Linked DNA regions of Homo sapiens: region 1 is linked to region 2. Evidence: fine-mapped expression QTL. Tissue or cell type: gastroesophageal junction. Region 2 holds a variant in brackets; the other region holds the start of a gene. All regions are shown on one strand. Distances are between the middles of the regions.

Region 1 (8,000 bases), 74 kb before region 2:
CTCCCCCTCCCCAATCTCAAGAGAGGTGCCTCTCTCACTAACCATGGCCCCCATCTCCTGACTGGCCCCCACATCCAGTTTCCACCATATCCTTCACATTACCACCAGGTCATCTCTGAGCAGAGGCCTGGTCATGTCTCATACCCCTGTGCGGAAACCTTGGGCAGGTCCCCTTGTCCACATAACACATTTAAAACCCCAGCATGGTGTTGTAGGACCTTGGGGTCTGGTCCTGCCATCTTTTCTGTCCTGTTTTTCTCCTCCAGTGAGCACTGCAGGCCCCCTGAGATCCCTCCTGCAGCCTACCCCAGGCCCATGGCTTATGCCTGCTCTTCTCTGGAAGCAAATCCATCCTCAGCCACTGGCCCAGATCTCCCAGCCCTGACGGGGAAGAGGCTACACATCTATCCAGGTCTCTGCTGCCTGAGTCTGTGGGTCCAATTCCAGGCAACAGGGCTTGTAAGTAACCTAATGCCCTGAGCCTCAGTCCTCTAACCTGTAAAATAGGGATACCAGACCTACCCCCGGAACTCAACGAGGGCAGGAGACAACAGGTATGAAGAGTGCCATGTGGATGGTAAAACTCAGAACAAACAGTATTACTACATTCTCAAGGCTCTGCTCAAGTTACTTCTTGACAAGCCCCTCTCAGACCACCCCTCTCAGAATTAACCCTTCCTTTGCCTGTCAGTCATTTTTCTCGCTCTGTGTTTAACACAGGGGCCCTGTGTCTCTGCTGTCTCTGTCGGATCTTTTGCTACACCATGCACTTAAACAGTGCTTTAAGATTCCACAGTCGGAGCCACTATCCTCTGGCCAGCATCAGCCTGAGACTGTGTGGACTGAAGATGACCTGAATATCCTCTGTTGATTTAATTACCCTACGTGGCTGATAAAATTACTCTGAATTTTTACCAAGAAGCCAGTGGCATTTACAGAGATTACAGTAGGAATCCTCTTTCTGCACACTTTCTCTCTGGCTCTCCAAGCATGGGTCTCCAGGGCAGTCCACTTTCCTGGGCTGGTGTTCAGCCCAGCAAAAGCACTAAGGAGGGAGGCCACCACCCTGACCCGGGCTAAACCCAGAAGTGGGAGGAGTGGGTACCTATTGGGGCACCCTGAGTCAGCCTCTTTGTTTTGCATTTGAGGAACCTTGCTTCTCCCTGCTTGGGGCAAAACCAAAGGAATCACGACCACTTCAAACACGGGCTAGTTTTGCATCCACATTAACCAGTGTTGGCTTATGGTGTGACTGTGGTCCCAGCTACTTGGGAGGCTGAGGTGGGAGGATTGCTTGAGCAGGTGAGGTGGAGGCAGTGGTGAGCTATGATTTCACCACTGCACATTAGCCTGCACGACAGAATGAGACTCACACAGTAAGTAACTATGCAAAAAACAGAGGGGCATGTATATGATCCTTACCGTAACCCACATATTTAACCTACGTAATTAAATCAACAGAGGTTATTCAGGTCATCTTCGGCCCACACAGATTCAGGCAGATGCTGGCCGGAGGGTAGTGGCTCCTCCTGTTGAGTCTTTTCTGTTTGTTTGTTTGTTTTTTCTGAGACAGAGTCTTGCTCTGTTGCCCAGACTGGAGTGCTGTGGTGCAATCTCGGCTCACTGCAACCTCTGCCTCCTGGGTTGAAGCAACTCTCCTGCCTCAGCCTCCCGAGTAGCTGGGATTACAGGCTTGCGCCACCATGCCTAATTTTTTGTATTTTTAGTCGAGACCATGTTGGGCAGGCTGGTCTCGAACTCCTGACCTCGTGATCTGCCCACTTCGGCCTCCCAAAGTACTGGGATTACAGGTGTGAGCCACCGCCCCCGGCCGGCCTCCTATGGAGTCTTAAAGCGCTGTTTGCAAGTTTCTGTTAACTAATTTGGGTTAAAGTAAGGGTCATCTACATGCCCCTCTGCTTTTTGCATAGTTACTCATATCCTAAGTCTCACTCTGTCGTGCTCTGAAGGCGAGGTGCTGGGTTGTGGGATGAGGGGCCATCTGTGTTTGGGGGTCCCAAACACGTAATTTATTACAAATTCCCTAACAGAGAGCAGAACAACACTGGGGTCCTCACTTGAAAAAAAAAAAAAAAAGAAAAGAAAGAAAAGGGGGAATTCCAATAACTTCTGCCAACAAAAGCAATGTGTGACCTGTTGGCATATGTTGAAAGGGACATTTGCTGATGGTGCTTGCTTGGGTATTTTTTGTGCTGCCGGAGAGGAATCTGAAGTTAAAACGACTTAACAGCTTAAACGTTTACTTTGACATATGATTGCACCCTTTCTCCCCAGCGTGTTTCAAACGTGCCAGTTTGCTGCCAACAGGGCACCCGGCACTCCGACCTGAATGAAGATGGCAGCCCCGAGGTGGTGACAGTGACTCTGGGACATTAACCTCCTGGCTGCGCGGCTGGGGGTTCTGAAACGCGACCTCCGCAGCTGTAATTATAATTGTTTTAGGTCGCATTGACCGGGCCTGTTTACGACTCTTAACAAGAGTCTTAAAATGTCCAGTGACATCTGTTGAGAGTTTAATCGTGTAAAAAAAAATCATTAAAGGAAGAGCCAAGAGATCAATTTTCTTGCTGTTTAAACAACACGGAGGCCATCAGGCGGCGGGGGAATGTGGCGACGCGACTAATTTAATCCCCCAAGTCGCGGCGCTGGTATGGACAGGAGGGGACGGAAGAATTTAAATAAAATATCAGAGGGAGGCGGAGGAGGGGGGAAAGGAGGGAGCCGAGGACCAGGGTGAGGAGAAATGGAAACACGGACTCGCAGCCTCCCAGCGGAAAGTGTCCTGATCCCGGCGTTACACGGCGCAGGGGGTGGGGGCGCCGCGTTCCCCGGGTTGGCCCGGGGACGGAGAGGATGACTCCGCAGTCGTCCTCTCCGAGCGCCCGGCCCGAGCAGTCCCCGGAGCCGGCGACCGTGCGTCCCCGTCCACCGCCACTTTTGTTCTCCGCTCGGGGTGCCGGGCCGCGGCGGGGCGGCAGTGCGCAGGCGCGGGCGGGGCGGGGGCGGGGCGCGGCGGGCTGAGGGTCCCGGCACCGCCCCCCGCCGCCCCGGCCCGCTCCATCCGGGCACTGCCGAATTAGCATCGTGCCGAGGCACAACTTTGCCGAGGCCCAACGAGATCCAGGCGCGCGCGCCGGAGGAAATATAGTCCCTGCCCGCGGGAGGCTCGCGCGGGAGGAGGCGGCGGCGGCGGCGGCTGGGCGGGCGCGCGCGGGGCTGCGCGGGGCTCCCGGCGCCGGGGGGGCCATGCTCCGGGCCGCGCCGGCAGCCCGGGGACCCGGCGCAACTTGCCGGGCAGCCTGAGGAGTTGGGGCAGCCGAGGGCTCGGCGCCGCGGCGCCCGGAAGCCTGTCTTCCCCTTCGCCAGCCCCCTTCCCTTTCGGCCGTGGGGGAGGGGGCTCGTGTCCCCCCCAACCCAGCCCGGAGGCCGCGTCCGCCCGCGCCCGCTCTGGCCCCCGCGGAGCCGCGCAACTTCCCGGGAGCCCGGGCCAAAGTGAGCGCAAAGTGCTGCCCAAGTTGCCGGGATGGAGCTGCAGAGCCGGCCCGAGGCGCTCGCCGTGGAACTCGCGCGCCACCAGGTAGGTGGCCGGGGGCCGGGCCCGGGGCCGGGGAGTGTGTTGCGGGGTGAGGGGGTCGGGGGACCCGAGCCCAGCATCCTCTCTTCCGGGTCTCTGGGTCTTCCAGGCTGGAGCCTGCCCGGGGGCGGGGGGCGAGGGAGTGAGCACACGCGCGGACCCCCTTCTGGGCTCCCCTCCGCCTGCCCCTGGCGCTGTCCTGCACAGTTTGCGGGATCGAGGACGCGTGGGACCCGAGCCTGGAGTCTTCTCTTAAGCGATGTAGGGTCTGCATGACTGGGAGGGTGCCTGGAGGGGGCCCCTTCGTGAGCCGGTCCCGGGGAGGGGAGTGCGAATAGGCCCCCTTCCGGCCTCCCCTCGGGCCCCCGCGCCCCGGGCGAACCTGCCCGGTGTGCAGAAGTAGTTTTGGCGATCGCTGCTGGCGAGCGGCGGCGTGGCGGCCGGAGCCTGAGCGGGGCTCGGCGTGCGCGTGTGTGTGTTGGGGAGATTAGGACGCGACTTGAATATTTATGAGCTTTGCTCGACACGGACTCGCCGTGTTTACTTGGCTCTTTGTTCCTCCCCCCTCCCCCGGCACACACTCACACTCACACTCACTCGCACACGCACCCCGGCCTGCAAACTTGCACGGCTCGGGGCGCGCCGCCGGGTGGCCTCGGCCCCCGCCCCGCCCCGCGAGCTGCCCCGATGAGGCGGCAGCCACAGGTAAGCGGCCCCGCGCGGCACTGCCCGGCCGCCGCGCGTGCAGGACGCGGCCCGGGAAACTTGGGGTGCGCTGCGGCCGGCCCCGCCCGTGGGGCTCCGGGCGGGGGGTGCCGCGGCCCGCGGTGCTGGGGTGCACCTGACCCCGGGTGGCCTGCCTGAGCCCGCTCCTCCGTGTTTCCGCAGAACGGCGACCTCAAGAAGCAGCTCCACGAAAGGCAGCCGCGGATCGCCGCGCTCAGCGACAAACAAGTAAGCGATGGGATCGCGGCCCCCCCTGGGATGGGGCGGGAGGGTGGCTGGGCACTTTGGCGGCGCCCTAAAAAGTGCCAGCCTGGGCGACGCACGCTCAGACTCCCAGAGGGGTCTGTCTCCAGTTCTCAAAGTTCCCCACCCCTCCCCTTTCCTGGAAAGAAAGAGCCGGGTTCTCGGAGGCGGCAGGGAGAGCCGGGCCCTGCGGGGGCCGAAGAGAGGAGCTCACTTAAAAGGCAGCGCGCGGCCCGGCGTCCATTTTGAGGTGGTGGACATGTTTTTGGAACGTGGCGATTTCTCCCGGCTCGGAGTCCCCCGCTTTGCGCTGAGGCGGCCATGGGGGCGGAGGGGGGCGGCCGTGGGGGCCTGGACACCAAACTCGTTGGAAGCGATTTCTGGGTTCCGTGGCAAACCTCGTTTTGAAATCGTTCCTCGAGGCTCCCTCCCCCCCACCACCTTCCACTTCCCTAGCTTCACTTTTTATTCTTGGAACCTGACGCCAGCTCCCGGGGAACAAAAGAAACGCGCCCCCGGGACTCCCCAGTTCTGCTCCAACTTTGGGCTCCGGGCGTTAGGTGTAGTTGGGGACACCTGAGAAGCTCCCACGCGTCGGAGGCGCGACCGCTCCCCCCCCTCCGGGCCCCCTCCGGGGAGGAAAAGTTGTCCATTGTGACTTAGTTGCGCTGAGCTCAGCGCTCGGGGTTTCAGCACCACGAACAGATGCCGCCGCCAGAGCCCGGCCGGCCGCGCGCCCCCGCCCCCTGGCTCCCGCCCCTCCTCCGCTGCCCCTCCCCCGCCGCGCCCCCTCCCCGCACTCGCACACCCGCCCCTTCCCCGCGCTCGCACACCCGCCCCTTCCCCGCGCAGCCCCGAGCCGAGAACTTTGAGCGGCGCAGCCAATGGCGTGCTGGGGGCACCGCTGTGGCGGGCACGGGGGCGGCGGCGCCCCTCCCTCCCTCCGCTGCCCCCTCCCTCCCTCCTTCGCGCCCCGCCCCCGCCCGCGCCGCGCCCCCGGCCATCGATCGCGTTTCCTTCGGAATGCCGGCCGCAGCCGCCAGCGCCAAACTTGGACAGCTCCGGGCCCGCCCCCGCGCGCCCCCGCCCGGGCCTGCCCCCGCGCTCCCACCCCAGCCCGGGCCGCCGGATCGGACGCCCCCTCCCCCGGGGGATTTTCTGGCGTAGGGGAGAGACGTGGACGAGGTTGGGGCGGCTGCCGGTGACCCTGGCGAGAGAGAATTCGGAGGCCGGGCGTTCGTGTCGAGTCTTTAAAGTTAAAAAGTGATGGGAGGGGGCGTGCGCGAGTGGCGGGTTTTGGGGGGGGCCGGGCTTGCTGAAAGGAAGATGGCAGTGCCGCGGCCCGCGCCTGGTCTGGGCCGCCGGGCTGGACCGAAGGCTTGGGACAAATGCGCTAACCCTTTTCAGTTGGTGCCGCGGCCCCCCCGCCCCCGGCCGCGCGCCCCCGTCCGGGAGTGGAAGCTTCCATTCCCGCCGGAGGGGGGCCCGGCGCGCGGCCCCGGCGAAGTCGGGGAGTTGGCGGGGGGAGGGGACCCAGGCCCTGCATTACCATTTTGATTGCTTTGATGCCATTTTTGGAGGGGGAGGGGTCGGAAGACCCTTTTCCGCAGAGCACAAAGCTGTTTAATCACTGCGTAGAATCAAATCAGATACTTTCTTTAAAAAAAAAAAAAAATCTGCCACCAGATCTGGTCCAGTGTGATAGCTGAGGGTTACTAAGCCCTTTTTTCACTGGGTAAAACGGCAAGTTGTTGACTCGTACGCTCCTAGAAGATTTAAAAGAGAGAGAGAAGAAGAAAAAATCCAATAACCTAGGAGCTTTTCTTGGAACAATGTCTCTTTATGTTTCTGCTTGGCAGTAGTTTTACTATTTGGAATGACTCTTCTGAGCTTGGGTTTGATCATTTCTTCTGTATTGTAGCAACTATTTCGAGGCTGTTTAAATTTTTATGATGATAGTAAATGAGTCGCTATTTATTATCTGTCATGCCGGAATTTAGATAAGCCGAAAGAAACATTTGAAAATCCTGTTTGAAGGTTGCGGCAGCTTCGGGAAGGAGCTCTCCGACTCCGGGCTGCCTTTGCCTTTAAATTTGAACTCCGGGAAGGAGGCTTGCTTGCGAACTGACCTCCATCTTTTTGTGTGTGTGAGTGTGTGTTTAAAAAGAAAGAAAGCAAGGAAAACTTTTTTTCTCCGGCCTTTTAGAAATGTTTCCCTTTTAAATGACTAAACAACATTGGGTAAGCAGCCAGGATTTGGCCTGGCCATTGGAACTTGTGTTTTTAACTGCGAGGGTGTTGTTTTTCCATTTCCCTTTGTGGCATTTTATATAACAAGGGCTCATAAAAGAGGGAGGGGAGGGGGCTGCGGCCGTGGTTCAGCATGCTAATAAAGCCGCCTTGTCTTTCCCAGGCTCTGCGTTGAAATCTTTCAGAGGTCACCTATGAAATGAGTTAGGGAGACTTAACATTTACTCCCCTCTCCCTCTCCTTGGGAGAGTTTGGTGGTGATTGGCAGCTTAGCTGGGGAAAGGTCGATGAACAAGCCTTTGGAGGTGACTCTGGGCTGAACTAGGGTTTTGAAGAGGCCTCTACTTGGTCACCCCAGAGCCTGCCCAGAAGGAGCCGAAATGGGGGAGTGGAGGTGAAAAGGCAAGTGTGTCACAGTTTGTTTATTTAACTCAACAGAAAATTAAAGGTAGAATTCTTTTAGAGAGTCGCTTAGGGAAACGCTTATACCATCTCCACCTCCAGAGATGTTTTCTGTGCTGGAACATCGGATATAAAGGTTAAGTTTCAATTAAAAGTGCACATGTGGATGATGAACTAGATAGTAAAATGAACAGATGACCCCGTTATCCAGGTCTGTTAGCAGTACGCCAGCAGCGGAATCCTGTCTTTCAGGGCCCAACCATGAATTTCTCATTCATGCCCTTAGCGCGATGTTTTTCTCAGTTACTTTAAGAAACATGGACAAGTGTGTAAAGGTGTTTAAAGGACTCATAGTGGTAGATAGCTTATTGGTCAGGGTAGATAGAGATATGTTTTCTGTGTAACTGTCTAGTTTTTGTCCTACCATTCGGAGACTAGGGAATTAACAGGAAGTGAGTTTACATAGGACCTTGCTATTTGAAAATGAAGTTCATATTTTCCACTAAAAAAAAAAATGAGGCATAGGATAGTTGGTCAGAGCTGATGAGTTGTGGCCAGGCCCAGGCCAGCTAAGCTGCCTTCCCAGGTGTGGCTGCACTTTGCTGCTGGGCTGTGATTCAGATAGTGGAGGGCCCTCTTCTTTAACAAGATATGATGTGTGAAGACTCCATTAGCTGCTCCAGTGGTTTACACCATGAGATTGCAGCACATGCAGGGGCAGTAACATTTTTATCTAAATTGTCAAGCAACAAGCCCTTCTGTGTAAGTTAAAGACCCAGCGTAA
Region 2 (8,000 bases):
CTGCCGCCCCCACCTGGGAAGCTCGTGGGAGGTCCAGTGGGAGAACCTTGGCATTTGCTCAGTGCGCAGTGCTTCCTGCATTTCATTGAAACTTCGCGGCAACTTTGCAAGGTGACAGGTAAGGCCTCAGGTGGGGACACCAGTCACACATGGCAGTCCTGGGGCAGAGCTCAGACGTGTTCTACCCACAGCCCTCTCTCCTTCTCCACTTACCTAACTGCACCCTGGAGCTTCAGAGTCTCCCCAGCCGTGGGTGAAGGAGCGTCTCCTGCCTCTATGGGTCGTGCAGCTTCCCGCAGTCCCTGGCTCATCACAGCAGCCTGCTTTTGGCTCAGCGGGAGTCTCCCTCTTCCCCAGCCCTGTCTGAGCCGATCTTGAGTTTTCTACTGGAGGCTCCTAAGGGGTCTTGGCAGAAGGCAGGAAGGGCCTGCGCTTGTGCAGCTGCTGCAGATGGTCGGTGCCGGCTCTGAGCTCACGCACTGGAGGCGCCGTGTGTGTGCAGCCCAGCAGCCTGGTGGAGGTTTTGTGAAGTCCTTGGTCTTTTTCAGTCCTCAACCAGCTCCTGCTTTTCTGCAGGTCCAGGTGCTATCAATGCATAGCAGAGAAGCGAGACACGAGTCCTTCCTTAGTGCCTTCCTGGTCATCAGTGAGGCCAGAGTGCATTTATTTCCATAATGGCGCATCCAGATTTCCTGCCCCATATTCAGTGCCACCCAGAACCTGTTCCTGATCCTGGTCCTGGGTCTCCTCCTAGAGATGGCACCTTATTTTTCAGGCCCTCATTGACATAACTATGAATATTGATTCCATTCCAGATGAAGCATCTTAGCCATGCAGCTGCCATAATGAGGGTCTATCAGTGCTGCCCCTGAGAGGGCATAGGTCTGTGCACCAGCTGGGCTCCTCTAGCTGCCCCCTTGGCCCTGCCTTTCTATGAGGGTTGGAGCTGCAGCTCTTGTCCTTCTTAAAATATATAGATTTTTTGGGCGCAGTGGCTCACGCCTGTAGTCCCAGCACTTTGGGAGGCCAAGGCAGGCGGACCACTTGAGATCAGGAGTTGATACCAGCCTGGCCAACATGGAGAAACCCTGTCTCTACTAAAAATACAAAAATCAACCATGCATGATGGCAGGTGCCTGTAATCCCAGCTACTCTGGAGGCTGAGGCATGAGAATGGCTTGAACCTGGGAGGCAGAGGTTGCAGTGAGCCAAGTCCGCGCCACTGCACTCCAGCCTGGGCAAGAGAGTGAGACTCTGTCTCAAAAAAACAAAAAACCAGGCATGGTGGCAGGCATCTGTAATCCCAGCTACTCGGGAGACTGAGGCATGAGAATGGCTTGAACCTGGGAGGTGGAGGTTGCAGTGAGCCGAGATCGAGGTACTACACTCCATCCTGGGTGACACAGCGAGACTCTGTCTCAAAAATAAAATACATAGATTTTTAAAATTTGAGATAAAATTTGCATACATTGAAATTCACAGATTTTGATTGTACTGCTGGATGAGTTTTGACAGTTGTGTACACCCAGGTAACTTATACTCCAAAATAGAGCATTTGCATCACCTCAGAAAATTCTGCACCTGCGCGATGCGTCCCGCAGAGCACCCGCTGTTGAGATTTCATCACCAGGGATTAGTTTTGCTGCTTCTTGAGCCTCATGTCCGGGGAGGCCTGCGGCCTTTGTGTGGGCTCCCTTCGTTCCACGCAGTGCTATGAGGCTCCTCCGTGTCATCGAGAGTATTCGTCATTCTTTCCCTGCGTGTTTCTCAGTGGCATCCCGTGGCGTGGGGGTCCCACAGTAGGTTTGCCCACTCACCAGTTGATGGACATTTGAGTTGTTTTCCCTTTTAAGAGATTATGAATAAAGCTGCTCCGAATTTTCATGCACATGATGTTTTGGGGATACAGGTTTTCATTTCTCTTGTGTAAACACCTAGGAGTGAAATTGCTGGGTCAGAGAGCACAGGTGTGTGTTTAGTTTTGTAAGAAATGACCCAACTATTTTTTGAAGTGTTCGCACTGCCTCCCACTCCTGCAGTGGTTTGTGAGAGACCCGGCTACTCCGTGATGGCCCAGCTCAGCCCACTTGGGTCTCCGTCCTCAGCGGCCTGCACCTGTGCTGAGTGTGCACCTGTGTTCACACCTGGTGGCCGCCTGGCTGTGATGTCTCCGTCTCTGCCCAGCCTTTGAGGCTCCTTTCTCCCTGGAACTTGGTCCTTCAAGGCTTTCTCGTAGTCACTGCTCTTGGGGATGAATAGGATTTTTATTTTGTCTGGGTGTGTTTTGATGTTACCATGGAGTTAAAGTTTTCTCATCCTTCCACTTCTTCAGCAGAAGCGAATGTTCAGCCGGGTGCGGTGGTTCATGCCTGTAATCCCAGCAGTTTGGGAGGCCGAGGCAGTTGGATCACTTGAGGTCAGGAGTTCGAGACCATCCTGGCCAACATGGTGAAACCTCACCTCTACTAAAAATACAAAAAAGTAGCTGGGTGTGGTGGCGGGCACCTGTAATCCCAGCTACTCAGGAGGCTGAGGCAGGACAATCCCGGGAGGTGGAGGTTGCAGTAAGCCGAAATTGCGCCATTGCACTCCAGCCTGGGCAATAAGAGTGAAACTCCATCTCAGGAAAAAAAAAAAAAAAAGAAAGAAAGTGGATGTCCACAACTTTTGTCTTAAATTACAAGTTTCCTGTAGAACAGCATTGTCTAATAAAAGCGCAGTGAGAGCCATATGTGTAAGTTTAAATCTTCTGGTAAGCCACAATAAAAAAAGTAAAAAGAAACAAGTGAAATTAACCTGGGGGGGTGAAAATCATTTTAATAATTATTTTATGTAATCCAATATGTCCAAGATATTATTTCAGCATGTACTTCATTTTTAAAATATTAATTAGATACTTTAATATCTTTTCATGAGTCTTCAAGGTCCCACTTGAAACCCGTCTCAGCTCAGGTTAGCCACTTGCAAGGGCTCACCAGTAACGGATGGCAGGAGGCGGTCCTGTCTCGAGTGGGCAGCGAGGCATCCAGGTGGGATGTCACACGCAGATCTGGAGCTCGAAGGAGAGGGGCTGGGGACAGGAGGCGACAGGGCTGCCGGTATACAGGGAGAGATGAGGGCCACAGGCCAGGAGCCAGCATTTCTGCTGGGCCAGAGAGACAGTCGGCCTGAGGCTGCGGCCTCTCTACAAGGAGCCGCCTTCAGAACCAGGCGGGACCTGCAGCTTCCCCTGTGCCGTCTCCACTGGACATGGCCAGGGAGGAGCACTCCAGGGCTCATGCAGGTGACAAGGCGGACCCCACAGCCCCGTTCCGTAGCTCTCCCGGGAGGGGGCTTGGCCCATTCATCCCAGGAGTGAAGACAGCAGCCGGGTTCTTCAGGACCCTCCAAAAAGATGTTCTCCACGGTATTTGGAGGACAAGGAATGTTTCCGCCTCTCCTAGTACATTTAAGTCAAAATCTAAAGCTTATTTTCAACACGTTATTTGCACAGTTAGAAGTGCTGTTCCTTCTAAAAATACCCCAGCAGAGAGAACAGAATGTGGTGTGTCTCCTGGGCAGCACGGCGTGGCGCC[A/G]GGCTCAGCTCTGGGCCCCAGCCCAGAGTGGGTTCGTGCGAGGTTGGAGCTTCCCCGAGGCGGGCAGAGACAGGGCAGAGCCACCCCTTCTTGAGCTGAACACTTTTCTAGTCTCGCTAACTCTGCTCCCCCTGTGAAGCTGGCATCAACATCTCCATCTTACAGATGAGGAAACTGAGGCTCAGGAGGTTAAACAGCTTGAAGTCACAGCTGCAGAAGGCCCTGTTGCCCTCTCCCATGAGACCTGCCAGTTTCTTGGGGCCTCCAAGGTGCCAGGTGTGAGCCATGTGCTTCTGTTTTTTTTTTGTTTGTTTGTTTGTTTTTGAGGCGGAGTCTTGCTCTGTCGCCCAGGCTAGAGTGCAGTGGCTCGATCTCGGCTCACTGCAAGCTCCACCTCCCGGGTTCACGCCATTCTCCTGCCTCAGCCTCCCGAGCAGCTGGGACTACAGGCGCCCGCCACCACGCCCGGCTAATTTTTTGTGTTTTTAGTAGAGACAGGGTTTCACCGTGTTAGCCAGGATGGTCTCGATCTCCTGACCTCGTGATCCGCCCGTCTCAGCCTCGCAAAGTGCTGGGATTACAGGCGTGAGCCACCGCGCCCGGCCATGTGCTTCTGTTTTAACTGTCAGGGCAAACCTGTGTGAACGTTAGTTCTCCCTGTTTACAGAGGAGGGAAACTGGGGCTCGGGGAGTTTGAGTAACTTGTTCAGGGTCTCATAACCCTTAGGTGGCAGGACTGGGGTTTGCTCTCAGATCTTTGGGCTATGTTCCTGAAGCTTCCAGTTAGACGCAGGTCAGAGGGAGTGTGTCGGGGACAGGGGTGACCACTGGACCGATTGCCGTGATCCTTTTTCTCTTGATGAAAGTGAATATACTGCATGAGCGTGTGTGTTTAACCAGCCACAGAGATATCAAAGGCCCTGGGAACTTCTTCTGGAGCAGAGCAGGGACTGTCCTCCTCTCCAAAGCCTAGCGCCACATGTCTTCTCTTCCCACGCTCCTGGAAGGTCTCAGCGAGGGCTGGGACACTTCCCAGGATGGCCTGGTGGGGCCTGCTGAGCTTTCGGTGGGTCTGGAGTTAAGCAGCCAGACCAGGAAAGAGTGAGGACCAGACAGGGACAGGCGATGTGGCCATCCCAGACACTTTGCAGAAGTGGGTGCAGTGGGGACTTTGGACGAATCAGAAGCTTCTGGCTGAGGGGACCTTTAGTTCTTCTAACCCCAGACTCAGGGGACTCCAGGACTCCCTACACCCTCCAGTTATGGGCCCACGTGATGTTACCCTTGGCTTGGAAACTCCTAGAGCCCCAGTGCCTACCTGCAGAGTCGAGACAGCTTAGCTTGATGGGTGTGGTCTGTCCATGTGCTGACACCTGCCCGTTCCCAGATGGACCTGACGCCCTGGCAGGGGAGGGCTCTGTTCCTGACCACGCCATCCTGGTATACCTCTAGACTGTCCCTCTCTGCCTGGGACGATGTTGTCCCTTCTTGGCCTGAAAAAAACTCCTGCTCGTGGAAGTCCCTTCTGTTGGATGTGGACGTCTGTAAGGAGTCTCATTCATGTTTGTTGTGATGATGTCATCGCTCCTCTATGTGCCTGTCTTGTCTTAGGTCGCGTGCGGTGATGGGTGGCTGGGTACCAGGCTGTTCTAACATCCTCACCGCCACGCTCCAGGACAGGGGAAGCAGGTGGGTGAGGTGCAGGTGAGGGCCAGCGGCACCTGAGAGTCAGGAGGAAGTGGCCGATGGGACTCTGAGCCCCGTGCAAAGGCCCCCTGCCTTGTGGCAGCCACCAGGACCACCCACTGGGTCAGCAGTCCCCAGGAGGGGACGGGCTGCCATGCCCACGTCAGAGGAGAGGAAGCAGAGGTCAAGAAGGGCCCCTCTGGTCTTGTGGTTACACATGCCATATATTTTCTTGTTAGTTTTCACCAGGAAGTCCCTCAAACTGCGTGGAAATGCAGCGACTGCTGAGCATGGCAGGATCTCAGTAAATAGACAAGGACGCTTCACGAGTCCATGGCCTGTCTCCTGGGGACTGCCAGAGCCTTCCCTGTGGTTGTGTAAATCATTTGTATTCAGTTACTGTGCCCGGAAAACCCTTCCCTCGCGGTGCAGGGTACACACAGATTCATTCCTCACTTGCTTGGGGCAGTCATGTGTCTGTCTCTCTGTCTCTGTCTCTCTGTCTGTCTGTCTGTCTCTCTCTCTCTCTCTCTCTTATCTGCACGAAGAGCTCCAGATACTCGTCTCCTGGAATGGTGGAGATGAACTAGGCATGGAGGTGCGTGACCAACCTCAGACGGCTCCCCCACCCCACTTAACGCTTACCCCTTCTATGTAGCCGAGACCTTCCCGTGCACTTCCGTTGAGTTGCGGGCAGCACGTTCTGATGCTCACTTCTGGTCTGTTTCCCCAGATCGCGGGCAGAACCTCTCATCTGTGCACAAGGGACCCAGCACGGGGTAGGTGTGCAGTGAACACTTGCTGAGTTTAGTCAGTGCCAATGGCTTCAGGAAATAGAAGAGGCCGAGCGCAGTGGCTCACGCCTGTAATCCCATCACTTTCGGAGGCCGAGGCGGACGGATCCCCTGATGGCGGGAGTTCGAGACCAGCCTGACCAACATGGAGAAACCCTGTCTCTACCAAAAATACAAAATTAGCCAGGCGTGGTGGCACATGCCTGTAATCCCAGCTACTTGGGAGGCTGAGGCAGGAGAATCGCTTGAACCCAGGAGGCAGAAGTTGCAGCAAGCCGAGATGTGCCAGTGCACTCCAGCCTGGGTGACAGAGTGAGACTCCATCTCAAAAAAAAAAAAAAAGAAATAGAAGAGACCTGAAGCTGTTTCCACAGCGGGGCGGGAGCATTTGCCAATCCAACCAGAAGTCTGTCCCCGAGGACAGGACCTGCTCTCCTTGGCGAGTGCCTTGTTAGAATGCGGGGCCCCCTTTGAGGGGCTTGTGGGCACCTCTAGGGTTGCTGGAATGTTCTGTATCTTGGTCTGCACGGTGGTTACTTGGGTGTAGATGTTTGTCAAATCCAGTGAGCTGTGGCCTAAGCTCTGTGCCATTCACTGGAAGTAAAATGGGCCCTTCCTCTGGAGGGCCAGGGGTTGGGGATGGGGTGACTGGGGTCCACCCACCCTTGCATCCCTGCCCACACCAAGGCTAGCTCCAGGAGGCCTCTGCAGAGAGAGGAGCACCTGCTGGGCCGTCATCGGCATTCCGTGGTGCAGGTGCGGAGGTGCACCCTCAGATTCCAGGCCGTCATCAGCGTTCCGTGGTGCACCCTCAGTTAGATCCCAGGCCGTCGGAGGTGGGGATGATGAAGCTGAGGCCAGCGGGACTGTGTGAACCCATCTTTTGTGGGAATTAGATCTTCTCAATGACCGTCTATTTTACAGAGGTCTGGAGGTCAGTGGGGACAGGCAGCTAGAGGCACTACCATCGATTGGATTTTGCTGCTACTGTGATTTGTTTGGAAGACGTGTGCCTGGTGGTGGCGGCCACTCCAGATCCAAGGGCCCAGGTTGGGGGTTCAGGGCCCCCTGGCTAGGAAGGAATAAGGACACTCTGATAGTGGGTGAGCAGTCTGTGACACAGGGACGAGTAAGTACCAACCACTTGTGTTTTTCCTCTTACCTCAGGCTCAAGAGAGGCAGCACCTCTCCTCTCTGGGGTGGGGCATTCGCCCCCCAATCTGCCCTCTCCTGGCAGCCCTTACAGCAAGCCCATGGCCCCTCTTAAAGAACAGATTTTGCTGCATCTTTAGGAAACAGATGAGTAGAGGGAAAACTAACCTCCGGGTCTTCCCAGTGGAGGTTCGAGGCCTCCAGCCTCTGCCCCGGGTCCTCTGTTGAGTGACACGGCCTCACCCACCCTCTCCAAGGCCTCAAGGCTGCGTCTTTCCCTGTGCCCTGCCTTCCTTCCTTCCTGGGGGACGCAGCTTAGAGATGTCCCTCCTGTCCAGCCCCTCCCTGGATTTTGGACATTCCCAGCAGGCTGCTGGCTGTGCCAGTCCTTCTCTGAGAGCAGGGCCCACGGTGGGAGGGATTGCACAGGAGGCTCCTGGTGGGCTCCTGGGCCCCTGGAGTCCAGATCTCTTCCAGATGGTATGTTTTCCAGTTGAGTAGATGCAGAAGTGGCCGTTTTAGCTGGTCTCACGGACACCCTCCACGGCAGAACTAGCGTGACCTCAGAGGCTGCCACTTCCGTGCAGAAGTTTCCAGAATACACCTCTACACATGCACCTGTGGTCACGGGGGACCTCACAACCATTTTTTGACACCCCCCCCCCAAGATCACAACCCCCAATCCTTAGTTCATGATGCCATTCAGAGTGTGTGTTTTTTTGCTAAATAGCATAAAATTACATCCTTTCAACTTAAACAAACTGCTCTGCAACGCCGAGGGCCGCTGAACGGG

Direction of the effects. Alleles are on the strand shown, and positions count from the first base shown. SD is a standard deviation of normalised expression in the study named.
For the expression in gastroesophageal junction of the gene that starts at base 3,089 in region 1, allele G in region 2 goes with a lower level than allele A (small effect, 0.39 SD a copy in GTEx).

The links. PIP is the estimated chance that this variant, and not a neighbour inherited with it, causes the effect.
Region 1: it holds the start of PHF21B, and the variant in region 2 is fine-mapped to the expression of PHF21B in gastroesophageal junction (GTEx, PIP above 0.99).

Annotation. Positions count from the first base shown.
Region 1 is chr22:45,005,094-45,013,093 of GRCh38, reverse strand. It overlaps PHF21B (PHD finger protein 21B), which reads left to right and starts at 3,089. Exons shown (of 13, transcript NM_138415.5): 1 at 3,089-3,598; 2 at 4,484-4,549. The coding sequence starts at 3,545. RefSeq lists an enhancer at 4,109-4,710.
Region 2 is chr22:44,931,513-44,939,512 of GRCh38, reverse strand. All of the region lies in intron 2 of PHF21B (PHD finger protein 21B), which reads left to right. Among named protein-coding and RNA genes, the nearest start is that of PHF21B, 74 kb to the left of the region's middle. RefSeq lists enhancers at 1-677, 6,775-7,276. The variant A/G (reference allele first, on the strand shown) is at 3,576.